Homo sapiens: one gene and its partners. The protein of the gene in region 2 interacts with the protein of the main gene of each other region in a pairwise test. Each region holds a gene or a part of one and is shown on either strand. Other genes may lie near its edges. The genes, in order: GOSR2, ELOVL5, NINJ2 and THSD7A.

Region 1 (7,029 bases), on a different chromosome or scaffold from region 2:
ACCTTATCTCAAGACCATGTTTTTCCTTTATAGATTTTGCCCTTTAATGAGCGAAATGTAAAGGCAAAGTGAGTGAAATGAAAATGACCAGATTGTTGCCACTACTTTTAAGTAAAGTTAACAACAAACTTACATGATGCTGTGTAGGTTACACAGCGTTTTCATGTTCATCATGGTCAGAGGCAGCCTGGATGCAAAGTGGATGTTATGGGGTGGTGGGGGGCGGTGAGTAGTTTCATGAACTTTTAAAAAGCACTTCCATTAAAAAATTCTTCCTAGATCTTCTGTAAACCTTTTTTAAAGACGGCTACAATGACCCTGGCTTATTTGCTACTATTTCTCTGCTTTGTTATATTATCACCCAAGCCCACCATGGACCCCATGCTAGAGAGGGCTAAGACTTCTTTTTCCTCATGTCCACGCTCCCAAGTCATGCTTGTGTATCACCTGTTTCTTATGGACTTCCAGTGTGTTATGTTGTGTTAGAATTCCCAGTTCAGTTTGAGACAGATTTTGCACTTGGCATATTAGTAGTTCCCACCTTGCCATTCATACTTGCTTTGTTGTTTCATATTTATGTTTTCTTAGCATGAAATGTAGCCGCTGGAATTGTATTATTGGCCACATTGTCTCTGATTGGTTCAAAGCAAATAGAGATTTGATGGGAAAAGTCAGTGGATTATGGGCCTGTACAAAAGTGCTTTGATGAACGTCCTGCCATGTACATCTCCTCAGGGTATGCCAGAACCTCTCTAGGACACATTCCTCAAACTGCTGGGTCATAGCATGGACACATGCTTTATTCTACTAGTTATTGTCAGAAAGCATTTAAAGTGTTTTACCAATTTATAATCCTACCAGCTGGGTATGAGAGTTCTAGTTTCCCTGTTTCCTTATTAATGCATATGTCCCCAAACTTTAAAATATTTGTCAGTTTGATGGGCTGAAGAAATGTGATCTCATTGCTTTTCATTTGTGTTTTCCTAGTTGAGTGTCATTTTGTATATTGATTGACCATTTGGGTTTTCTTTTCTGTCATTTGCCCTTTTTTCATTTAAAAAAAATGCCTTGTTTGACTTTTTGTATTGATTTGTAACAATTCTTTATATATTTTCTGCACGTCAATCCTTTGTTATCTGCTGCAGATACCCTCCAGTCTGTGCCATTCATTTGTTTATTTTGTGGCTTTGGTGTACAGAAGTTTTTTGTTTTCATGTTGTCAGATGTATCCATCTTTTTCTTTGTGGTTTGTGGGTTTTGTGGGGGTGGGTAGTTTTTGGATTTTGTCTTATTTAAGAAATCTTCTGTAACCCGAGGTCATTTATGCACACCTGTATTTTCTTCAGAAAGTTTGAAAGCTGCTCTGCTTTTTCCATTTGGGTTTTAAGTGAGCTTGAGTTTATTTTTATGTGTTACCTGAGGTGGCCTTTTTCTGTACGGGTAACAAACCGGAGCTGTTGGCATTTATTGTAGTCCCTTCTTTCAAAAGCTCCCAAATAACGTGGGGCTGTGTCTAGGCTGTTTCTTTCCTCTTGGGCCAGCTGTAGGGTTTGCCTTTCCTTGTCTGTCTGCACCTGCACTGCCGCCATATTGTTTCCATTGTTACTGCTTTGTAAGTCATAATGGCAGGTGGGACAAGTCATTCCTCCCCCTCCTTCTTCAGAGTGGTCTTGGCTATTCTTTACCTCCCCCCTTTTTATTATGTCACTGTTCGTGTTGATCATATTACCAACTTTCAGATTTTTCTGTTAAATCAGCATTGAAAATTTACCTCACAGCCTGCGTCAGGACTTCCTTAGAGTCCTAATTCTCCTTTCTGTCCCCGTTACCCTCCGGTCCCCTGTACCTGTTCCCTTGGTTGCCCTGCTTCAGGTGTCGGCTACCTCAGGCTGCATTCCTACATCAGCCCCCATACCTCCACACCCCCGCATCATCCCACAATATCCCAGACTTACTTTCCGGAAGCAACGGCCTGGTCTCGGACTCTAGCAGTGATTTCTAGTTGCTTCTCAGGGCCACAGGTCTTGCCTAGGAGCACCCTGGGGAGTCATTTGACAGCTCACCCAGCTTCTTTTGGTGCCCGAGGGCATATCTGGAGGCCATAGGGAAGCCCTGGAAAAGACTGGGCACAAGCTGAAGCCAAAGTTGGGTGCCTGGCTGGCATTGGTAGATTTGGGGTCCTGGTTTGCATTGCTCACGATGCAGAATGGTTGCTGACCTTTCCTCCAGCGTTGGGGATGATGTGAGAGTCCAGCAGGCCCCCTTCATGTGGGCCCTAACTTGGGGAAATCTCCACCGTGAGCACCGGGAAGTGGATGGTGGGGCCAGCATAAGCAGTATCCCGAGGACTGATCATGGAGGACCATTAGGAAGGGGGTCTTAAGGATGACCTTGGCCAGACCGTGGGAAGCCTCCAGAGAGTGTTACCCAGATCCAGGGTACAGTGTTGCATTTCCAAATGAGATGGCAGTTCCTTCGTTCCTTGATATTGTCGGAGAAGGATGTTTACCAAACAGAAGGTCCCTGTCTCAGGGTCTTCCTCTGAATGGTTTCCTCCAGTGAGTCACTTCAGCATCCTCTCCCCCAACCCGATTCCCTTTCAAGCAGCCCACCCTACTTGTAATCCACATGTCTTGAATGAATTTTTGCATATCATTTTCTTCTATCTTCCTTCACCAAATGATGTCTCCCTTCTTCACAGCGATGCTCAGAACTCTTTCCATCCACATAACTTACCTGGTTTCTCTTTCTCAGCCCCACCCCTCTGTCTGCTTGCCTGTGACACCACTGTGCAGAGCTGCCCCTCTTTCTGTTTGTTTATACTTATGTGTATTGCTTTTCTCGTGAATCTTCCCAGGGCTTGTTCATGTCTGTTTAGCCTGTCATTCCTCATTATGTTGTTTCTCAAGGACAAGGATTATATCTCCCTCGCCCTTTGACTCTTCCTGGTACAGGCCAGTGCTTAGCACATTAGGTCGTAGAACAGAAAGTAGGATTGGCCGGGTTCAGTTTGAGGTTTATCACTTGCTGTGTGATCTTGAACAAGTTACATAACCTTTCTGGGCTTCAGTTTTTATAAAATGAGGATGATAATGGTACTTTCCTCATAGGGTTATTGATTTGGCAGAGTATCTTGGATATGGTAAGCACCCATAATCTGCCTATCAGTGTTATTGTTAGTAGTTAAGATATTAGAAACCATGCCAAAACGTGGGACCTAAAGTGCCACATACAAATTTTACAGTTCAGTGATGCTGTCGATTTAAATCAGTTACATGTTGGCATCAGAAAAATTGTCTTTCCTGACTGAAGCGCTGTTGATTACTCCTGTCTCACTCATTTCCTCCCTCTTCCTTTGATAGGCAGGTCCACGAGATCCAGTCTTGCATGGGACGCCTGGAGACGGCAGACAAGCAGTCTGTGCACAGTGAGTAATTAACTGTGGAGACCAGAGTCCTTTCTCTGATGACAGGGTGCTAATGGGCTGGGCTTCCTGACTGCACTCTGCCTTGGGGGCTTAATGATTCAGCGTGGAATGAGTTTTGTTGTTAGGGTGGACAGAAAAACCCTATGGCAAAGTCACTGATTTCCCTGAGTGTGCCCTTTGGAATCCCACAAGTCTTATCCCCCATTACCCCTCCACTCAACCTGACATGGCCCTATGGGAATGGAAGCGCTTGCCTCCATCTATCTTAATCTAATTACCTAGTCCTTAGAGGAATGTACTCCATAAAAATTCAGAGATGTTTAACTGGAATTGGCCATTTCTTCTGAGCTGAGAACTGTGGCTTTTTAGGAGGATTATTCAGAAACGAACAGCAATATTAATTAGTTTAGTTCCCACAGCATGGTTTCTTTTGAGAAGCATGCTGGTTTTTTGTTTTTTTTCATTTTTTTTTTTTTTTTCTATTCTGAGGAAAGGTCCTTTTTCTGAGTTGGTCATATGGACACCACCTGCGGGGGCTGCCTACCCACCCCACTGCTGGGCTCCCTCAGGACCCATTCCTCCTGTTCTCTCATGTCTCCTTTCGCAGCTTCAAAAGCAGCTCTGTTCTTGGTTCTGTGCCCCACCTTGTTCTAATCTCAACTGTCTTTGTTCACTGTGGGCACAAAGGGCTAGGAAGGGGCAGTGTCACTGCTGTCACTTCTTTATGGGGCAAGAAGCAGTCTGGATGCTTTCTTTTGTGCACAGTTTAGCTTCTTTGTTCATCGGACTTTGTTTGCCTTCTCAGCAATCTCATTGTTACATGATTAGAAATGGAAAGAGGTCATTTTGACTGTCTTATCGAAAGGGATAGGGAAAATGACCGTATTTATCGTATCTCTTTACCTCTGTGGATTCTTTCCTGGGCCTTTCCTATTGATATTTGGTTTATTTTGGGGACGTCAACATTGCTCAGCCCACCCATTCTTACAGAAAGCTTTAAGGGAAGAAAGCCTTAAGGGAACTCTTCTCTGTATGTTTCACATACTAATCTTCCCCTTCCTTTATGCTTTTTTTTTTTTAAATAAAAAAAAAAAAACTCATTACTATAGGGAATTCAATTGGCAGCCTTTTTCTAGGTATTTATAATCCACGTCTGAGAATCCCAAAGGAAAAGAGACCTATATCAGAAAATTTAGCTTAAAGTATTTATTTGGACAACCTTTGCATGTTTATTTTCTAAAGGTAGGAAATTTATTTCTACAGATTTACCTTCAGCTTTTTTAAAAAATTGGCATTGTTATGTCATTAACAGCTATATACATGTACTTTTTTCAAAACAACATTTACGGCCTAACTTGAATTTTTTCTGTTATTCATTAGTGTATACATTTTTCTCCTTTTGAAATATGTAGTTCTAGTTTATTGGATATTGAAAAAAAAATCTGTGATTTATCATTGTAATTTAAGTTCACTATCTCTTTTCCAGCAATTATTCTTTTTTCTTTTTTGTACAGTAGTAGAAAACGAAATCCAAGCAAGCATAGACCAGATATTCAGCCGTCTAGAACGTCTGGAGATTTTGTCCAGCAAGGAGCCCCCTAACAAAAGGCAAAATGCCAGACTGTAAGTGCTGACCTCTGACATGGCTCTGATACTCCAGGCCCATCAAGACAGGCTTTTCTCCCTGGGGGAGGTGATAGAATATTCTGAAAACCAACGTACATGTTGAAAAACTATGACTATGCAAAGAAAAAGCCCCCTCAAAGGGCACAATTCTATCTGAGTGATGCCGCTCAAAATAAATAGCCTGTGAGGTTTGTGACTCAGAAACCTTGTGACCCCTTACCTCTTTGGTGTCATTTTGAAATTTTGCCTCCAGTTCTGTTTTTTGACTAGATCCATAGCCACCTGAAGCCTAATGTTGCCATGGAGTTTTGTTCTGCTCTTTGGTTCCTGCTGGGTTCTTCTTGGGTTGAAATGAAAAATCACTTCAATCAGTCCACCCATAATGAAATGCTGATCTAATGTTTGATACTCCAGCATGAAATTAAAATGAAACCACCCTTGCCACCTCCACCCCCAGCGCCTGTTTCCAAAAGTTTTATGAAACTTTGTGGATGCTTTACCTCAAAGATGCCCTTGGGCTTCTTCCAGGAGAGCCATATAATCCATAGAAGGTCAAGAAGAGGTCAGTGAGCCTGCTTCCTGTCCCCTGTTCTCTGTCATGCATCCAGAATCAGAGCAACAGATTCTGAAGTCAAGCTGCTGGAATCTTGTGTGCTACCATCTCACTTTAACCACAAGTTTCTTCTTGACTTTCAACATCGTTGATCAAAATTAGATCTTGTGGTGAGGGGGTATAGTGTGGGGTGGTGTAGGGAGAAGTAAGGAAACGCCGTCTTTCCTCAGTACAAAGCCTGGCCCCCTCAGATTCTGCTGCCCTGAGTTCCTGGAATTTAATCTCTCTCTCCATCAATTCCAGTCGGGTTGACCAGTTAAAGTATGATGTCCAGCACCTGCAGACTGCGCTCAGAAACTTCCAGCATCGGCGCCATGCAAGGGAGCAGCAGGAGAGACAGCGAGAAGAGCTTCTGTCTCGAACCTTCACCACTAACGTAAGCCAGGCCCGTGGTGAGGGTCGGCCTGCACTTGACAGATCGTGGGGGCTGGAGTTCAGATCTCTGAGCGCCATCTGTTTTGGGGGTGTCTGAAGAAGACTGATGATGAGGAAACCAACTGGAAATGACAGGAACTTTGTGCATTGCCACAGAGACTAGACCTAGACAGAGAATCCCTTTTTCTAAGACAAAAACCTGAAGAGGAAGCAGTTAAATTGAAGGGGAATAGGCAGAGGTGAAAATTACCTGGTTGGGCTGGTCTGAGACAGAAAGGTGGAAGTTCACATGGTGGAAACGTTTTTCTGATCAGATAGAGACAGATGATTAGAACTTAGGCCATTTGTAGAGAAGGCAGCATTTCAAAGCTGCCTGCGGGCAGTTGCCATTGTGCCGAGTATGTGTGTGGCTCCAGTGTCAGGTGCATTAAGATGTTTTTGCCCCTAGTCTGAGCAGCAATTTGGAGGAATTTGTTAACAGATGTTTAGGGTTAGATGGACTGCTTGCCTGAGTCTGTCTGAAAGTGTGTTGGTTTGCATGTTTGATTTTTCAGAACCCATTGTCCCTGCCCTTTAGTCTTAACCAGATCATTTCCTGCACATGGCTGTAGAACATACTGGCCTTTTCTGTGTCCTGCATAATATATTCCACTAAATGAAGTGTGCTTTGGCTTTTTGTATTTTGTTTTTTTACAGAGGATTATTTTCTAAAGAGATGTTAGCTTTCTAAGCCAGTTGTTAAAATTCACATCATTTCCTGCTTTGTAGATGTTTAACCCTCAATGCTGCATCCTTGCTTTGCAATAAATTTTCCCAAGTGTTTCAGGCTGTGCCAACATAGTTTTTGCTTCCCCAGACTAAGCAGTCAAGTTACAGTGTTTAACAGTTCAAAAATTTAATGAACTATAAGACACACTAAAAGATGTTTGGATTTTAGATCGTTATAATGTAGTATTCAGGCCTTTTTTAGGCCAAGGATGATCGCTTG
Region 2 (7,029 bases):
CAATTGGCAGGAAAAATCACATGCAGTCAGTATGTTATATTTACACAATCAGGATCATAAGAGCAATGTCTTAAATTTTTAAAATCATTCATCCAAGTACTTTTTTCCGAGTAGTGGTGTTAAAAATAAAATCTGACTTCCACTCATGAGGTTTGTTTTAAATCACAGGCCAACAGTCGCAGCTCAGCATGGGCAGTCATCTCCTTAGAGCACTTGTTTGACATGTTTAATTGGGCAGAGACCTGACACTGCAGGTTCTGATTCCTTTTCTTCTGTGTCACTTATCAGGTCGGCTGCTCCATGTTAGTCCCTGAAATCAATAGCGTTTTTCAGATGGTTTTCCTTTGCTAATGGCTGTGCAGGCTGCTTCCAGAGGGAATAGGCAGACTTCAAGGTTTTGAACCTTGAGCCTCATGTTTTTGTTAGTCTCAAAGAGTGTCAGGGACCCTTTCAAAAATATTCCCTGTAGTCATTTCAAACCCCTCCAGCTGTCCCAACCCAATCATGTTCTTTGGTTAAAGGTACTTGGAGAGTGACCATAGCTCCCAGCCACTGATGGACATTAAGAGCTCTTGGGGCACTCGGGCTTCTCCGAGTTGACATCAGATTTTTGGATATTAGTGAAACATGTCAGAGGTGATATTCCAGAGAAGCCGTGAGGATAAGCCTTAAATCTTTGACCCTTTCCTCTTAGATTATCCGTGTCCTCTGGTGGTACTACTTCTCCAAACTCATAGAATTTATGGACACTTTCTTCTTCATCCTGCGCAAGAACAACCACCAGATCACGGTCCTGCACGTCTACCACCATGCCTCGATGCTGAACATCTGGTGGTTTGTGATGAACTGGGTCCCCTGCGGCCACTGTAAGTATTAGAGACGGGGACTTGGGGAACAGGTGTGAGCAGGGAGGAGAGTTGAAACTAAGGCTTTCAGAAAAGGTGCTGTTTCTGTAAATGTCTAGGTCAGGCTTTCAGCTTTGTGTTCAAGTTGCTTTTAATGATAGTTTATGTACCTATGCACACAAAACCCTTTTTTAGTTAAGTGAACTTTCTGTGCTGATTGGGTGAGATGAGGGAGATACCACTGGGGACATATTAAGGAATAGGTACAATATTCTCTGACTTAGAGGGCAACTTTCCAGGTTCTTTCTGGTCCTTCTGTATGGTGTGGAAGGTTTGAGACGGGCAGGTGAGGAAAATAGGATCACACTGTTGCATGAGTACCAGGGAGCAAGGCTCATTTTGAAATACAGCTTTAGCTGTCATGCATTAGGAAGTCTCCACATGTTCTAACAACCCTCATATTCCCTGAAGCATGGTGATCAAGGTGTCTTCTATAACGAGCACCAAAACTTGATATAAATTTTCTAAGGTTGTACTTGGTTTTTGGAAAGCTTGTAGTCCAAAGTTTCTTATAATTTTCAGAGATTGCCACCTTCAGATTCAGCCTGGGAGTTTTAGCAAATGTCTCAGTCAAAAGTCCCGTCATCCAAACACTGAAGAATTTAACTGAGAACCTATGGGTCTATTTATGGATATTTTTTTCTCTGGGATAGCACTGCCCTTGATTACCTGAGCCTGCTAAGATTCACAGTGTCATGGAATTCCAGAGCTAGGAAAAAAAAAAAGCTTTCCAAATACAGATCCTTTGGGTTTGGGAGGAAACTAAGACCACAGAAAGGTGGGTAGAGTTGGGGCTTTCTGCTCTTCCTCCCACTGTCAGAGCTCATGATGGTGGATTAACTGACCTAACTTTCTAATAGAAACAGCCCCTCCCTACATTTGAAGAGTGCTTTAAATTTTCAGAGAACTTTCAGGAGGACAGATTTAATCAGCTCCACTTGGGCCATGAGAAACTGAACCAGGGAATGGATGTGATGTGTCCAAAGTCAAAAGCCAGTTCCTATCATAGCCAGGAGTAGAAACTTCCCTAACACCAGGCTGTGCACCTGCAACTGCACAGGGAAAAGCCAGATGGCTTGGTTTGGTTGCTGACTGTTGGGGAGGAGGACAGAGTCTGGAAAAAGAACTAGTGGTCCTACTGAACATTGAAAATGATGTGATAAGATGGCTCTTTTATCTCTAAGGAGCTAGACTCTTGACTCTATTATTAATAAAAATGTATGACCTCAGCACTGCAGTCCTGGGAAATAATTAGAAGATGGCTTCAGAGACCTCTCCACACCCCAGCAAATGTATAGAAACAACCATTTTTGAGCATATTGCCCATCAGCTGTCTTCCACAGCCTTCAGAGAGCATATTTGGGCAGTTGTGCATGTAAAGAAAAACAGCTGTCTCTGAGAGTGGGTGGGCATCTGCAGCAAAGCCTGTAGGTGCTGGGATGGCGTCGTGGCTTCAGTGTCAGATGCCCCTCTAGCAGCTACAGCTGACCCCTGGGCTCGGAGCCTCCTGGTGGCTGCCTGCCCAAGTGGAAATTGAATTCTCATTACACATCCATGCATTGCTTGCTGTTGCAGTGTTTGTCAGCTCCGTTGGAAGTCATCTCTCTTTCTGATTCAAAAAGAATCTTGTATTTTTTTTTTTTTTACCACCTGTTCTGTTTAAAACACTAATACATTCTCCTTCCCAAATCCCTCTGTTCCTGCAGCTTATTTTGGTGCCACACTTAATAGCTTCATCCACGTCCTCATGTACTCTTACTATGGTTTGTCGTCAGTCCCTTCCATGCGTCCATACCTCTGGTGGAAGAAGTACATCACTCAGGGGCAGCTGGTGAGTGACTTGGCCTCTTTCCCCAGGACTTACTTCCTGGTGGATACAGACCTCTTCCTGGCTTTAGTGTTATGTAATAGCATCTAAGATGCCCCTTCTCCACCCTTTTTCATTTGATGTAATTAAATTCCTTGAAGTGGGTAGATTAGGGAATTTTCTTGTTTTGAACTGATAGTGAACTGTGACCATGGGCATACAGCTAGTTGAATTGTACAAAGAGGTCTAGAATCTAATTTGCCAACTTCAAGTTCAGCTCTTCTGAGTTTTTGCACATAAGCACATATGCATGTATGTGTGTATATGTGTGTGTGTTTTCTAATTATAGTCCAAAATCCAAAATGAAAATTGTATGTTTCCAGGGGTTTTAGAAGGAGCTGGAGAGTAGTATGGAGTCCAGGGTATGTGTAGCCCATTACTAGGCAGCAAGGATATTTGTTTGGCAGGTATGGATGACCCCTCAGCCCCCATGCAGTGGAGCACCTGTTGGTGAGGATGGCAGCTGTTTGCTTCAGTTAACAGCTCCTCCCCTGGTTTACTGCCAGGGCCAGGCCACTTCACCTGATACTTCTCACCATCCTTGATTAAGCCTTCTGCATTCATCAGTATATTATAGGTAACCTCTTTCTCTCCTCTCATGAATTCGTCTATGAACTAATTAATACTACTACTGCTCATATTAAACACTGACATTTCCTAAGTGTTTAGCACATGTTGGGTACTCATACTAAGTACATGATTTTACATAGATTGTTCCAGTAGCCTGATTTCATATTATTGTCCCCAAGCCAGGCACAGTGGCTCACGCCTGTAATCACAGCATTTTGGGAGGTCGAGGCAGGAGGATCACTTGAGGCCAGGAGTTTAAGACCAGCCTGGGGAACATAGTGAGGCCCTGTCTCTACCAAAAAGAAAAACACATATTATTGTCCCTATTTTATAGATGACACTGAGTCAATAGGCCAAAGCTAGCTGACTGAGGGGTGTGGACATTAAACCCTTTGCCCTGTCCTTGCATTATTAACACATTTTTCTAAACACACCAAGCTGATTCAGATCCCTTCAAGTCAATTATGATTTTTCAATATTTAAAAATAACAATCTGAAAAAAAAGTCTGAGAAAATCTTAGAGACTGAAGTGTTTGATGTTTCATTTTCACCTCTCTGCCAGCTGCTATATGGTCCTTGTTAATTTTTTCTCACCCACCTGTGAAAAAGGAAAATTGTTGATTAACCTCCTTGTTATACTTGAGGAGAAATGATGCAGAAATTGATTTATACCACAGTTTTGGGTCTGGCGGAAGCAGAATTTAAAAGAACAGACTGGCAAAGTTGGTCTCCCGTTAGGCTCTGTACTTTGAGGTGGAAGATTAAACCTACCCAGGTTGTCAGGATTTATTTTAAGCACCACTCCTAGTTATTCCTCAGTCTGCAGTACTAACCTTAAAAAAGAGAAGGCAAACAGCCAGGCACAGTGGGTCATGGCTTGGAGTCCCGGTCACTCGGGAGGCTGAGGTAGAAGGATCTCTTGAACCTGAGAGTTTGAGGCCACCCTGGGCAACATAGACCCTGTCTCAAAAATTAAAAACAAAAAACTCTACATAGAAACATTGGAGCTGCTAGAAATACAGTGTGCAGAGCCTAGCCCTTTTTTTGGGGGGAGGGGCAGGGGTTGAGCTGGAGTCTCGCTCTGTCACCAGGCTGGAGTGCAGTGGCGCGATCTCGGTTCGCTGCAACCTCTGCCTCCTGGGTTCAAGCAATTCTCCTATCTCAGCCTCCCAAGTAGCTGGGACTACCGGCGTGTGCCACCATACCCAGCTAATTTTTGTATTTTTAGTAGAGACAGGGTTTCACCATTTTGGCCAGGATGGTGTTGATCTCTTGACCTTGTGATCCGCCAGCCTCGGCCTCCCAAAGTGCTGGAATTACAGGCGTGAGCCACCACGCCCGGCCTGAGCCTAGCCCTTTTTAAAACATCTTTCCACCATTTCTCTAACCAGTTCACATGCGTTTCAAGGTTTATTCATCAAAATTAATCAATGCACTTAGTGTTGTTTGCCAGTAAAGGTTTAAATCTACTCATCAGCCTTCACCAAACCAGAAGCGTCCATGGATAAGGAGTTGGAAGGATGTCCAGCCAGGTGGCACATCCTGCAGTGATGTTATCAGTGCCCTTTCAACATACACACTTGCTCTTCCTTCTCAAAAAATAAAAACAAAAAGTCTTGGATGTCTCTATAGTGTATCCTTGAAATTTGGAGAAGGTAGTTTAAATAGCTTGGAGGGCAGAGGAAGAATATATATAAGACAAACACACCTAGAGTTTAGGATAAGTATAGTGTATGTGTTGTGTTCATGAAGTGACTGCTGTACCTGCAGCAAGGGTAGTAAGTGTTAATTCAGAAATTTAGGTGATGCTGGTTAAAAAGTCTGCCTGGTGTGGGGCCTCGTCCATGCACTGTCCCTGTTCAGCTGCATCCCCTCTGTTCCCCTAGCTTCAGTTTGTGCTGACAATCATCCAGACCAGCTGCGGGGTCATCTGGCCGTGCACATTCCCTCTTGGTTGGTTGTATTTCCAGATTGGATACATGATTTCCCTGATTGCTCTCTTCACAAACTTCTACATTCAGGTAAATCTCACCCTTCTCTGGGACTTGGAATCTGGGGCCTTTACCAACAAAGGCCCTCATCTATTTACTTAATGGGCATGTGGAGCCCTTGCTGGGTGACAGGCTCTGGCCTCTAATGGAGTCACTATGACAAGAGCAGCCCCTGCCTCTGGGGGGCTCACAGCTCACTGGAAGACACTAGAATCCTGTTCTAGAGCCTGGGTGAGGAAGTCTTGGGATTCCCCTGGGAAATGGAAAACTGTGCAGCAGGACCCTATGTTGCTTCCCTCTGACCTGCAGCAGAGACGTGAGAGGTGATTTCAATCAGAAATCTCTCAGTTCACTACCCTGAACGTCATGGCCAAATGAAATTTCAGAAGAGATTTTTATCACAGTCCTCAGATATGGAGATCTGCTTTTTTGTCCCAGCTTTCTTATACATTCAGTCTTCAGGTGTGAGGATTCGGTTCATTCCTAAGCATATGATGTGGTGATGTAGGTCTTTGCTCACAGAAAGATCCATTTAGGGCAGATAATTTCCAGTGGAGCCTGACCACGTTGCAGCCACTGCTGATTCTCCTGCCATGCGTCACCCCCCAGATGACATGTGTCCTGCCTTTGTTGCCAGTGCCTGGTAGCCATAAGGCCTGCTGATCTGGGCAAAACACGGAGGTCAGGAGCAAGGGCAGAGGCTGCAAGTCCCGAGGCTCAGACATTTGTCCTTTCTTCTTCTGTGCCCACAAGCACCTGTGTGTGGCATGTTGAGTTTCAGTGGAAGTCATATACTTCTGGGCTTCATAGTTTATGGCTGCACTGTGGGACATACACCAGCTACAAGGAAGGTGAAAGGATAGGACCCGATGAAGCTGAAATCACATTTATTCTAACTACTTATAGCAGCATAGCACTTTGTTCATGAAGGCTGAGATAGTCGCCGAGGCAGTGAGGAACTTTTGAAGACGAACAAGGGATGTGGGTGTCAAGAGAGCTGCTGCCAGGTGGGAAAGACCAATTTGGCCACATAACCCCTGTCATCTGCCATCCAGATACTAAAAGGCAAAGCAAAGTGTAAATTGAATTTTCTATGTGACATTTTAAATAGTATTTCTGTTGCAGCCTGTGATTCAGTTAACTTACCTCAGGCTAAGCCTCAAAAAAAAAAAGGAAGAATGATTGAAACCAGTGACAAAAGATTTAGTCAATGAGGACTTGACCTCAGGAGTTTCTCCTTGATAAGATTTGATCTTGAAACTAGGCCTAGTGTTAGGGATGCAATTCTCAGTAAAGTTCCCTATAAAGAAAACTGTGGTCATTTGGTTCTCATCTGCCCTTACACATTTTAGACCTACAACAAGAAAGGGGCCTCCCGAAGGAAAGACCACCTGAAGGACCACCAGAATGGGTCCATGGCTGCTGTGAATGGACACACCAACAGCTTTTCACCCCTGGAAAACAATGTGAAGCCAAGGAAGCTGCGGAAGGATTGAAGTCAAAGAATTGAAACCCTCCAAACCACGTCATCTGATTGTAAGCACAATATGAGTTGTGCCCCAATGCTCGTTAACAGCTGCTGTAACTAGTCTGGCCTACAATAGTGTGATTCATGTAGGACTTCTTTCATCAATTCAAAACCCCTAGAAAACGTATACAGATTATATAAGTAGGGATAAGATTTCTAACATTTCTG
Region 3 (5,679 bases), on a different chromosome or scaffold from region 2:
GTGGCACAGCCATGGGGCAGGGAGGCCAGGGGGCACAGTTGAACCTGGGCAGAGACACTTTGAATTTGGGTGCAGGGGGTGAGACTCTCTTGCCTAATGAGTGCTCTTGGAGACCGAGGACAAACCTTCACCAAATGGGCTAAGACCACAGGTTGCAGCCTTGGGGCTGACGGCGACCATGGGCCTTTGTGAAGTGTTGGCCCTGGGATCCCTGGCCCTAACCAACCATGCCAGCTGGCCCTAGACAAGCCAGCCTTGCTTGAACTGGATTTCCAAAGGCCCTGAACGCCGTGTGTGGCCTCCCAAGTCCATGCAGGTCCTCATTTACCCTCCATCCCTACCTCCTCCAACCTCACTGGCTGCCCCCAGCACCAGCTGAAACCCCGGCCCCAGCAAAATCAAACACGAAGGAAGATGGGAGAGATAGTGAGCACTCCATTCCTTTCGTGCCTATGGCCTTTTTTCTTATTTCTGTGGGCCCTGGGCCCCAGCCTGATTTTGGTGGCTGTCAAAAGGAGTTTGCCAGGGCCTGTTGTGAGCAGCCTGTGGCCCAGTGCTTACCCGGGGGGCGGGGGGGGGGGGGTGTCCTCACAGCCCCAAGCACCGCCTGGCATGTACAGTCAATCTATTGAATGAATGCTACCCGCTGGTCTCCATTCTACTCTCCCAGAGAAAGTGTTTAAATTGCTCCACTGGCCAAAGTGCACACTCCTGATTACCCTCTGTGAGTCCTGCCCCGTCCAGAAGTTGAGGACACTCGGAATCTCAATAATGAACAACCCAGGTGCAGGGAACTGCCCCGTGTAGAAAGCTGATGGCCTGGAGTGTGGTCAGAGTGAAAGAGCCACTCCTATATGTTTGATCCTCCAATGACTGGTCCACAGAGTCAGAGAGGGGCAGCCTGCGGGGCACAGGCTGCCAGGGTGGATTCCATCAGAGCAGGTGCTGTTAGCACCCATGACCACCCTGTGCCTCTTGAATGTGTCTGTGTGTGTGCACCCTCCTGGCAAACAGAGCAAAGGGCCAGGAGCTTGGAAAGGAAGTGAGAAGAGCAGGGTGGAGACGTGGGGCTGAGTTTTGAAGGCAAACGTTAGGAGAAGGACTGGGGAAGAGAGGCTCCCTTCTGTTGGCCTAGGAGAGGATTGGTCCAATCTGTAGCCAGGCATGTGGATTAGAGCTGGATCTCCAAAGACGAGTGCCCAAGACCATATTTTAGGATAAGAAAATTAAACTTCTATTTATATTGAATTTTATGTAATCCTTTCAAATGTTTCTACTTTTGCATATTTTACTATATATATAATTAGTCCAATAAAAATATGTATAGTTGATAATGGAAGAATGTACATATATTGAGGATGCATGGCCAAAACAGTTTTTAATGCTGAGATTACACTATCAAGAAAGTCTGGAGACTACTGCATTTCAGAGTTTTGTTTTTGTTTTTGTTTTGAGACAAGAGTCTTACTCTGCCACCCAGGCTAGAGTGCAATGGTGCGATCTCTGCTCACTGCAACCTCTGCCTCCTGGTTCAAGTGATTCTCCTGCCTCAGCCTCCTGAGTAGCTGGGATTACAGGCGTGTGACACCATACCCAGCTGATTTTTTTGTATTTTTAGTAGAGACGGGATTTTGCCATGTTGGCCAGGCTAGTCTCAAACTCCTGACCTCAAATGATCCCCCTGCCTTGGCCTCTCAAAGTGCTGGAGTTACGGGCATGAGCCACTGCACCCAGCCTCATTTCGGGGTATCCTAAGGGCTCATAGAATCCAAAGGTTCTGATAGATAGGTAAATCAGTTAGCCTATGTGTAAATCAACTGTCCTCTGTGTAAATCCCTGAGGTACAGAGAAGTGAAGTGACTTGCTGGGGCTGCACGAAGTACAAGGAACATTCCAGACCCTCTGAGACCTGCCTATCCAATCATCCACGCATCCATCCATCCACCCACCAATCTCTCCATCCATCCATCCATCCCTTCATCCATGAAGCTTTATTTTATACTTCAAAACAAAATCAAATGTAAATTATGCTTCAATAAATCCTAGCCAAAAAAATTAAAAACAAATTACGAGTGTTTAACTGGTATGCATCACTGTGCATATATAGGCACGCATCCATCTATCCATCCATCTGTCCCCACGCAGCAGGTATCTGTCCTGTCGTGGTGATCTGCTGGGTCATCTTCCCTACCTCCAGGCCATAGCATCCTTCAATCCATCCGTCTCTCCCCACTCTGCAGGTATCTGTCCTGTCATGGTGATCTGCTGGGTCATCTTCCCTACCTCCAGGCCGTAGCATCCTTCAGAGTCCTCCATTCCTTCCTGTCTCACCTTGCTCCACTTCAGTTCCTTTTCACCCTGATCCTAAATCAATACTATAACTTTTAAATGACTCTCCCTGCTTCTAGCCCTTCCTGGCCCAGTCTGTTCCAAGCACCACTGCTAAATCAATCTTCCAAGTACTCTTGAGTGACTGCAGATTGCCCTTGGTCATGGCGCCCAGTCTGAAATTCTTGGCCCAACCCAGAGGCCCACAGCATATGCCCTGTATTGTGATTCTGTCTTTTGGAGTTAGTGGCTTCTGGAGAAGCTTTAGTAAATTATGCTTCAATAAATCCTAGCCAAAAGTAATAATTAAAATGATGTGAGTGTTTAACTAGTATGCATTACTGTGTGTATACACTCATGCATGCATGCATGTGTATGCTGAGAGCCTGTGTCTGACAGCGTGTGTGCCTGAGCAGGGCGGCAGCTCCAGTGCTCCTGAGGGTTGGAAATCCAGCCGATGATCAGCTGCTGAGCTGTGCACCCTGCCTTGGGGGCCACAGCATTATGCGAGAGGAGGTGCCTTTCTCTATTTCACCCAAGCCTCCAAGCTCTTTTTATTGTCTTCTCAGGTGCTTTCCTCTCAGAGGAAAAGAACACAGCCCAAAGCTGAGGCCTGGCCCAGGTAAAATAGTGAATAGGGTGAGGAAGGTGCATTTTACCAGCAGCAGAGAACCCTCCCGGCTTTCTCCAGCCAGATGTGTGAAGGTGTGAGGGAAGGGGTGACTCTCCAGGAAGTATCAACTGCAACAGAATGTCATTTCAGAGTGCAGAGGTCCTTATGGGTTTTCTCGTCCAACCCTTCATTTTATCAGGCCATGAAACTAAGGGTGTCATTTGCCCTGAGCTTCCCATCTGGATTGGAAAGAGCTTTAAAACCTCTCTCCTCTCTCCCACCTCTCAACTGCTTCCCTTCCAGAGCTCCCCTTGGTAAGTCTGTGCTTTCTCCCCTACAGCCTGGAAGCTCCGACCCCAGGAGCCAGCCCATCAACCTGAACCATTACGCCACCAAGAAGAGCGTGGCGGAGAGCATGCTGGACGTGGCCCTGTTCATGTCCAACGCCATGCGGCTGAAGGCGGTGCTGGAGCAGGGACCATCCTCTCACTACTACACCACCCTGGTCACCCTCATCAGCCTCTCTCTGCTCCTGCAGGTGGTCATCGGTGTCCTGCTCGTGGTCATTGGTGAGGAGCCCAGCCTGCAGTCAGACCTTCTGCCTCGGCACCCGTGGCTGGCAGAAAGGCCCCACGTGTCCCCTGGGCCACCCTGCATTGGCACAGGCAGCTTTGCAACCACACGCTGACCTGCAGTGAGCCCTCCGCTAACAGAGGCCCAAAGACCAACTTCCACCCCGCGAGGGCAGGCGCCCTGTCCTGTCTCCTGGTATCCCATGGAGCAGACCCTCCGCAGTACCTGCTGAATGACTGCGCCAGCACCTCGCTAACTGCTAACTCACTCACTCGCTCACCGCTTCTCCATGAGCACTCGTCCCCACGCTTACAGGACCCAGCTTAAGTTCCCAAATCCTGGTGGGATGAAGCACACTAGGGTGCCCCATTGTACTGGTTGGCGAGGGCAGAGGCATCTCAGCCCGATGACGACCACCTCCCTTGATTTCTGCCACATGGGTTTCTGAAGGGCCCCTCTCTCCAAACTCTGGTGGGTGTTGTGGGGGCAGCTCCGTGCTGTGGCCCCGTCTCTGACCCTTTCCCCCCACTCCACTTCCCTGCAGCACGGCTGAACCTGAATGAGGTAGAAAAGCAGTGGCGACTCAACCAGCTCAACAACGCAGCCACCATCTTGGTCTTCTTCACTGTGGTCATCAATGTTTTCATTACAGCCTTCGGGGCACATAAAACAGGGTTCCTGGCTGCCAGGGCCTCAAGGAATCCTCTCTGAATGCAGCCTGGGACCCAGGTGAGGGAGGATGGAGGAACCCCAGCTCCAGGGACTCCCCAGGTGGCCCTTCTCTCTCCTCTGGGGCTTTGGGGCAAGAAACAGATCCCTTGCCAAACAAAGGGGGAAGGCCTGTAGCTCCGAGAGCAAGGAGAGGATCTGCAAGAGCCTGGCCTCAGCGAGGCTTGCACAAAGCCCCACTGCTGTGTTAATGGCTCTCTGCTCTCAGGCTCAGGTTTTCCCACGGTCTGGGACAGGGTGGAGGCGATGCCATTAGTGGTTGACTCTGCCCCTCCGGCAAGAGGAAAGGTGGAGATGGGGAATTTCTCCCTGCCATTGTCTAGCAGCTCTTGCTACTGACTGTGGTCCATGGGTCAGCAGCATCCACAAACCACCCAGGAACTTGCTGGAAATGCAGAATCTCAGGCTCTGCTCGAGCACGTGCTACAGGCACGTGCATGAGTAACGTGGCCAGGTGCATCCTGGGCATGCTGAAGGTTGAGGGGCATTGATCTGGCCTGCCATCCTCATTGCCTCTTCTCTGCTTCCTCAACAGGTTCTGGGCCTGGAACTTCTGCCTCCTTCCTCCGTGATCTGCCAGGCTCGTGGGCACTTTCCACAGCCCAGGAGAGCTTCTGAAAGGACAGTATAGCTGCCCTTGCTCCCTACCCACAGCACCTGAGTTAAAAAGTGATTTTTATGTTATTGGTCTAAGGGACTTCCATCTTGGTCTGAAGTCCTGAGCTCAGACGCAGGTACTGCCAGCCATACCTTCCTGGTAGCATCTGCTGGACCTAAGTAAGGCATGTCTGTCTAAGGCCAAGTCTGCCCGGCTTAAGGATGCTGGTTCTGACTCTACCCCACTGCTTCCTTCTGCTCCAGGCCTCAATTTTCCCTTCTTGTAAAATGGAATCTATATCTATAAAGGTTTCTTCAAATCCACTCTTGAGTCCACTTACTTGTCTAGTCCTGCAGGCTCAGGCATCCAGGCTGGTCTCCATCTGTGCCTTGGAGAGGGCTCAAGAGAGCAAACCCCAGACCTGGAGGGTGGGAAGGCTTTTAAATTACTTCCTCCTCTGTGGGTTCTGCTCGGAGCCAATGTTCCTGGCCCAGATGTCTTGCGCTTATCGTCATCTGCCCCATGAACTGTAGATTAGTCCATTGCAGGTGGATGCACATATGCACAATCTTCTCCACGAACCTGCTGTAAGCTATTCTGGCTTTCAGTCTCAGCTTCCCTTAGGCATGTGTTTAAGGACTGCAAACTCATTTTGATCTTTGCCTGGGCCAAATATAACGAGGAAGGTAAATCTGTAAAGCATTAGCAAAGCATTGCCAACTCAGAAACAGAAATGATTTTTAGAAGGTCTGCCAGTTTAGAAGCAGCCACTCGTTGGCTTCTCTCCACTGCTCACCAAACCGTTCTGGCCCTATATCTAGCCTTCTCCACCCAGCGT
Region 4 (7,541 bases), on a different chromosome or scaffold from region 2:
TGGAGGGCCCTAGGATTTTCAGAATGGTAAGTAAGCATTGGCTTCAACTTAAAATCACCAGCTGAATTAGACCCTAACAAGAGAGTCAACCTGTCCTTTGAAATTTTAAAGCCAAGCATTGACTTCTCCTCTCTAGCTATTAAAATTTTAGATGGCATATTCCTCTAATAGAAGGCTTTTTTCATTTATGTTGAAAATTGATTGTTTAATGTAGGTACTTTCATCTGTTTATGTTGAAAATTGTTTAATGTGGCTACTTTCATCAGTGATCTTAGCTACATCTTCTGAGTAGCTTGCTACAGCTGCTTCACCTTGCAATTTTGTTGTGAACATGGCTTCTTTCCTTAAACCTTATGAAACAGTCTCTGCCAGCTTCACACTTTTCTGCAGCTTCCTCATGTCATTTGGTCTTTACAGGTTTAAATAGAATTGGGGCCTTTCTCTGGATTAGGCTTTGGTTTAAAGGAATGTTGTGGCTGATTTGATCTTCTATCTAGATCACTAAAGCTTTCTCCATATCAGCAATAAGGCTGTTTTGCTTCCTTTCATATGTGTATTTGCTAAAGTAGTACTTTTAATTTTCTTCAAGAACTTTCCTTTGCATTCACAACTTGGCTAACTGGTGCAAGAGGCCTAGCTTTTGGCCTATCTTGGCTTTTGATATGCCTTCCCTAATAAGCTTAATAATTTTAGGCTTTTGATTGAAAATGAGAGACTTGTAATTCTTCTTTTCACTTGAACGCTTAAAAGCCATTGTAGGGTTATTAATTAGCCTAATTTCAATATTCATATGTCTCAGGGAAAAGGGAGGCCCAACGAGAGAGAGATAGGGAAACAGCCTGTTGGTGGAGAAGTCAGAATACACAACAACATTCATTAATTTAGTTTGCTATTTTATATGGGCACAGTATGTGGTGCCCCAAAATAATTACAACAGTAACATCAAAGATCACAGATCACAGATCACCATAACAGATAGAATAATAGTGACAACATTTGAAAAATTATGAAAATTACCAAAATGTGATAGAGACATGAAGTGAGCACTTCATGTGGGAAAAATTATGTTGATAGACTTGCTCAATGCCAAGTTGTCACAAGCCTTAAATTTGTTAAACAAACAAACAAACAAAAATATGTGTAAAGCACAGTAAAATGAGGTGTACCTATAAACTTGGTGGGTGGGTGTCAAGGGAAGGGGAGGATAGAAAGAAGCCCAAAATAAATTTTGTCTCATCCAAATCTTGGTCAAGTGTGACACCTAGAGGTTGCACAAATAGAATTCCTTTGGGTATTTTTTATTTTTTAGGATGCAAAATGCATTTATGTGGAGAATTATTTTTAAGTTTTTATTTCAAAATGGACATCTTTAGATATTTCCATATGTAATACTATCAATAAATAACTATATTTCTTCACTTTTTTATAATTATAAAACTGTTGATGTTAAAAGTTGTTTCCCTTTCCATCAAGGAACTGAATATTTCATAATTGTTTTAAAATATTGATACTAATGACTAAAAGTCATTGTCATGAGTCTCATGAGTTGTAATATATATTTATATGTTTATGTTCTAATAAAAGAGAAAACAGATGTGTATAGGTATGTTCACATCCTTACCTCTGGAGTTTAGAAATGATAGCAAAATTAATAGAGGCAGAATAAAGACACCTATCACATGAGAGGTGATAAGTTTAGAATTTTTTCATTTCTAAATATTAAAAAAATATGCTTTGCATTTGTCATTCATTGGTTTGGAGAACTTTTATCGCACTGGCTCATTAATATTTGAACAGTTCTCCATGAAAAATGACGAACGATTTACTTCATGGCAGGCTGTACAGATGGTCAATTTAATCTGCATCCTTGAGACTTCTCATGACTAAATTTTGACATCATGTCATTAAACATTTGTGTATTATTATTTATGTCATATTCTAGGAAACAAATATTGCTATGTCTTGCTATCTCTTGCCATCTATCAGTTTTATTGATAGGATTTATCTACCTAGACACTATACCTTTCACAAAGGAACACATATCAGGATATATACATCACTTTTGTCTCCTCAGAGACCCATACATTTTTGTCCTCAAGTGCAATAATGACATTGTTATGAACAAATGTGTGGCAGGTGTGGAGACAAATGTTTATATGACTTGGATTCTCTAACCTTGTTCAGAGATATCTTTGCTGATGATTGTGTGTGTTTGTGTATGTGCATGTGTGTGTGTGACTCCTAGGCCTTGTGTACGTTGAAATTGAAAGAAGGAAACCAAATGTTGGCTATTTTGAAACAGTACTGCAGAACATATCACCATAATTGTGTATTGTAAATGGCAGCAAATTGGAACCTAGAAATTGACCCCGTATAATGCTTGAATTTGTAGCTATGATGTTTACACTCTTGACAAGTTGAGTTATTATTATACCACCATGGGTAAATATAAAGGTCAGAATCTTAAAATTTCTTTTGACAATAAGCTATTAAGTATAGTGTCGGATGGCTTTTTGAAGGGCTAGGTAAATGACCTTGCACATTAACTTAATTCCTCAGACTCTCTGTCCTCTGTTATATAATGAATTCCCACTTGGTGAATTGATTGGCGCTTCCCACGAATGCGTAGAATGGCTGCTGTTAGCAGAGTATGTCCAGTTTGAAATACTTCCTGTGCCAGAGTTAGAGGATTTCAAGGTTTAGGGCACTAACAGTAGCTGAGAAATACAAGCAGAAAGGATGGGAAAATGATTCCTTGTGGAGTGGACATGGAAATTTTCCTGAAACGACAGAACCCAGGAAGCAATAGCAGGTCCCATTTCCTTCTGTGGTGTAACTGTCAAAAGAAGTGATCCTTCAGGGAACCATACATTAGTTAAGATCAGGCTTCCTTTTTATTCCTTATCAACCTATAATCTTTTGATTGTTGCCTGTTTTTCACGAGTGAAGAAATAGTAAGCCACACTAGCTTATCTCTCCTAATCACAGACTCACAGCGCTCGGGCTCTCTGAGCTTTTAATTCCTTCTTAGAGGCCTAACAGAGCGGAAAGTAAACAAAGACCAAATTTGCAACCTTCAACGTAGCTAATTTCCTCTGATGTCAGAATACTTAAACAGGCAGGACCTGGGAATTATTTGATCAAACCCGCTTTTAATCTAATGCATGCAGAGGGGCTGTGTCTGGAAGGCTTTGCAAAATGACAAGGGTCCCAAGGGAGCCTTATGGAAGGTTTCCTCTTTCAGAAAGAGTAGCTTCCTCATCTTAAACTCTAGGGTAGCTATGTTGGAGTAAATTCATAAAAAGTAGTTTTCCTGCTTTTAAAATTTTATTTTATTTGGCTGAAAATTGCTGATGGGATAGTAGTTTTCTTTGGCTTTCCGTTTGCTGAATTTTTAATGGTTAAATGCCTACTATTTTAGCTTTACTGTGAAATGAATTAATAATAAAATATATTATTATTAGCTAAAGGGAGAAGGAGAAAGGGGAAAGCATTATCCGACTTCACACACATTCTTCTATTACTACTGGTAGAAGAAAGTGAAAACACAAAGGACAAAAGATGCAAACACATGTGGTTCCTTATTTAGATTGCGACAGGCATTTTGCTACAGTAAGAGTTAAGAAAAATCGGTGTCAGGGAAATTTTAAATGAAGAATTTACTAATTCCAAGATATCCAGACAGCATTACTGACTCAGTTTGACTCACAACTATCTGAATACTTAGAAGTAGCATATTTTTGAGGGAAAGAAGTAGATGAAGGGACAGAACTCTATACCTGAAATATAATTTTAATTTTAAGGGTTTTTTTTTTGTACAATTGTATTTATGTAATTAGGTAGCATTGCAAATACTCATTAACACTAATTCAGTTTTAAAGGCTATTAAAAGACAATTTAATTTGTCACAGAGCATCAATATTGCTCATATTTTTATTGATAATAGATTAAGTTAAAAACAACATTTAAAGAAGGGTTTAAGTGCATTTTGACAAGTCAACATTTCTGCTCTCGTGTTTTCACACCTGATCTCAAATACTGCTCCCCACACAAAGTAATTCAGAAGCCATGGCTTAAAAATAGATAATAAACACTGATGCTTTGTGTAAATACGTACTAAGAATAGCATGCCACTAGATCTAGCATTTGACTCCTTGGATGACAGTGAATATCAATGCCTGTTATTTGTCATTCTGAAATCTGCCGGGTGATGATTCTTTTTATTGGTGCATCCTTCCAAACATATTTCATCGCACCATGTGCACCGGAGTTCTTTAGGCGGGTATGTCGGAGGTGGGTGTCGCCTGGCTGGCCCCTCTCCCCTTTGCTCGCCCCCTTTCTCGCCCTCGCGCTCTCGCCTCCCTCTGCCTCCAGCCCCCTCTGCTCCTTTGGGCTCACGCCCCCCTCCTCCCCCTCCAGCTGGCGGGGGCTGCGCTGCCTCCCAGACCTAGCAGACCTGCTCAGTCAGCTGGGGCCCCCTGAGGACAGTTGCCTCCGGAGCCGCCGGGACCTGCCATTCTGCGAGGAATGGCAGCGGCAGCAGCATCCCCGCCAGAGGCGGCGGCGGCGGCGGCAGCGGCCACGGCCACCACCGCGGACGCTATTGTTCCCTGGTGTTAGACGCGCTCTCCCTCCTTCTCATCTGAAGCGAACAATAGCAGGAAAGAGCTTTGCTTTCTGTACTCTTTGAAAAGACGTTCCAAGAGCGGAGAAAAATTCCCTGCCGAGCGTGCTACGGCTCTGGACCCTGGAGTGGCTGCAGGCGGCATGGGGCTGCAAGCCAGGCGCTGGGCGTCCGGGAGCCGGGGCGCTGCGGGGCCGCGCCGGGGCGTCCTGCAGCTGCTGCCGCTGCCGCTGCCGCTGCCGCTGCTCCTGCTGCTGCTGCTACGCCCGGGCGCCGGCAGGGCTGCGGCGCAGGGCGAGGCGGAGGCGCCCACCCTCTATCTGTGGAAGACTGGTAAGTGGGACGGAGTTACCCTTTCCCCATCTTCACATCTGGGGCCACATTAAGGAGCTGGTGGGCTTCTGTAGGGACCCCGGTGCTTTTGGATGGCTTGGTTATGCTGGTATCCTAAGGTAAAAAGTATGATTTCTTAGGAAGCAAATAGGTCATGTCCGATGCAATTAGGAAAGAAAAGCATAACAACTAAGAGGCAACAGTGAGTAGCTGGAATATTTCTCTCGCAGCTCTGTAATGAGGGCAACGCGCACTTCCATGATGAAGTGCATTATTTTTAACCCCTGGATTTTCATTCTACTAGGAGTTTCTCAAACAGATTTCTAGCAAAGAACAAGCAAAGAGTTTAGTCTCAGTCTTTATTCTTTAGGCAAAGCAATATGCTCACTGTCATGACATTTGTGGATATAGAGTTGAATTTGTTAACTTTAGCTTTGTGATATGTGGGACACCTCAGAAACAAGCCAAGTGAGGGCGGTTCCAACAATTAAAGGCAAATGGGGCTCCAGTGAGCCTTCAGGGAAAGACTGAAAACTCAATTATTAACTAGCGAGTCGGAGGATTTTTAAAGTGTACAACTTTTAGGATGTCTGGGTTCAAACTTTCTCTTCCTTCCTTGAGAATTGTTTTGCTTTGTTTTTCAACCACCCAACAAAAGCAGCTACTAACTGCCCATCATTACCCATTGGCAAAATGCTTGGAGTTTCTGGCGGGGGCCGTGACAGGCAGGAAAACAATACGGAGTGAGGAATTACCAACCCCTTTTCTGCGGGTTCGCTTTCTCTCTGCATTAAAAAAACATTGAGAATTCCTTAGGGGACCTGAAACTTCACATGTTCATAGGAATAAAATGGGAAAAGATTATTCCTGTTGCTTAGAGCTAGGGGGTAATTTAAGAATAACTTGGTCATGCCAAACATTAAGAGAATGTTGTAGTTGAAAGGGAAAGTATGTATTCGTCATGGGGTTGCAAACAGGTTTCAGGGAGTGAGTGTCTTTTCCTGCTTCAGCCCATCTCTGCACCACTACTGAAGAGACAGCTCAGTCTACTCTACAATTGCATCACTATCGATATCTGGAATTTTTAAAGAAGTTGCAGCTATCCAGAAATTTAGTGAGGAGATTAAACAGAAATTTATTTAAAGTCAAAGTACACAATTTGTCTTAGAAGATTACATGAAACATATACACATTTTAAAAAGCAAGATTATTCTTGCTAACACCTTAAGTTTGAAGATCAGTTGAGTAATGAATTCAAATGAAATAAAATTAATTTACTTCAATTTGAAACGAAGATTTGAAGATCTCTAATTTAGCGTAAGCTAGGGTTTTACTTGTTAAAAGCACATTCATAATGACAAACATTAATCAAATTATAATTTACCATTAAATGGTATCATATGGATGCTTGGGGAGAGCTTCTTAGGTAAGTCAGTGTAGGATGAAATAGTAGTTGCCTAGTTGAAATTTATACTAGCAAAGTAACAAGAGCCAAGCAATAATTCAGATGGAAAAGAGCCCAGCCAACATTCACTGTACAGCATCTGAGGTGTCAATATATGTCATCATAAATGTCATGGTAGGAACACAAGCCAATAAACAGTTTAAAATAGTGGGAAGCTCTCAGAAACAATGATATGGAGACCTTGATTCCAGTGCCAGTCCTAGCTCTTGCTAGCTGTAGGAATTTTGGCAGTTCACTTAAATTTTGACCCTTAGTTTTCTCAACTGCATGTAAATGTGATGACACCTTCTTCTGCCTATCTGCAGTGTGTGAAAATCACATGAGTTATGAGAAAGTGATTGGTAAACTTCAAAGCTGTATGCAAATGTAAGCTAGTGTGATGAGGATGTTAAAGATATTTCTTGACTGGTGATCCTTGGTTTGGTAAAAAAAAAAAATAGTTCATTCAATTGGAAAGCAAAATAATGACTTCTTTATTTTTTTTTTTTTACCAAAGGGAAAGGAGACTTTAATATATCTGTAAAGGAGTTGAACGTAGTTCTCAAAAGAACTAGAGAATATTTAAAGAAAAAAGATATACCATAAATGAAAATTTAGAAGTTACAGAATCACTATGTGTGTATCACTTGATGAAAATAAAGAGGCAAGAAGGGAATTGGAAGAGAAAAGAGGTGACATACTCCAAAATATCTGTTCCAATGGGGTAAGCTTGGTCTTGGTACAGAGGATTATAGAGAATCATATTAATGGTGAGATTATTGAATTAAAATGATGTAGTGAAAGTTGTTACACTGGATGAAGATCTGGGACAGGAACTCAAACTGTGTATGTTACTAACATGCTGTAGAACTTTGGTAAAGTCATTAATGACTTTGGTTCTTGGCTTCCTATTTTGTAATACTCATTAAATAGATAAAATGATATCTAAGGGCCTTTTTAACCCCTAAAGGGCTTCATATATATGAATGCATATGTCAGATACATATATTATAAATACACACATAAATACATATATACAACAAATAAGGGTATATAAAGTTGACCCTTGAACAATGCACAGATTAGGGGTCCTGACCTACATGCACAGTGGAAAATTTATGTATAACTTTTGACTTCCCC

The links.
Region 1: the proteins of ELOVL5 (region 2) and GOSR2 interact in binary tests that used the Homo sapiens proteins (3 or more experiments, as listed by UniProt).
Region 3: the proteins of ELOVL5 (region 2) and NINJ2 interact in binary tests that used the Homo sapiens proteins (3 or more experiments, as listed by UniProt).
Region 4: the proteins of ELOVL5 (region 2) and THSD7A interact in binary tests that used the Homo sapiens proteins (3 or more experiments, as listed by UniProt).

The regions. Positions count from the first base shown.
Region 1 is NC_000017.11:46,926,158-46,933,186, forward strand, and holds part of GOSR2 (Golgi SNAP receptor complex member 2), read left to right. Parts: intron 1-3,362; coding exon 3,363-3,427; intron 3,428-4,941; coding exon 4,942-5,050; intron 5,051-5,909; coding exon 5,910-6,042; intron 6,043-7,029. UniProt on the Homo sapiens protein: Involved in transport of proteins from the cis/medial-Golgi to the trans-Golgi network.
Region 2 is NC_000006.12:53,268,927-53,275,955, reverse strand, and holds part of ELOVL5 (very long chain fatty acid elongase 5), read left to right. Parts: intron 1-694; coding exon 695-866; intron 867-2,611; coding exon 2,612-2,736; intron 2,737-5,228; coding exon 5,229-5,363; intron 5,364-6,685; coding exon 6,686-6,829; coding exon of another isoform or gene 6,830-6,843; 3' UTR 6,844-7,029. UniProt on the Homo sapiens protein: Catalyzes the first and rate-limiting reaction of the four reactions that constitute the long-chain fatty acids elongation cycle.
Region 3 is NC_000012.12:563,781-569,459, reverse strand, and holds the end of NINJ2 (ninjurin-2), read left to right. Parts: intron 1-3,281; coding exon 3,282-3,510; exon of another isoform or gene 3,511-3,855; intron 3,856-4,058; coding exon 4,059-4,225; 3' UTR 4,226-4,243; intron 4,244-4,778; 3' UTR 4,779-5,164; downstream 5,165-5,679. UniProt on the Homo sapiens protein: Its role in unclear. In contrast to NINJ1 paralog, does not mediate plasma membrane rupture (cytolysis) downstream of necroptotic and pyroptotic programmed cell death.
Region 4 is NC_000007.14:11,829,173-11,836,713, reverse strand, and holds the start of THSD7A (thrombospondin type-1 domain-containing protein 7A precursor), read left to right. Parts: upstream 1-4,515; 5' UTR 4,516-4,767; coding exon 4,768-4,957; intron 4,958-7,541.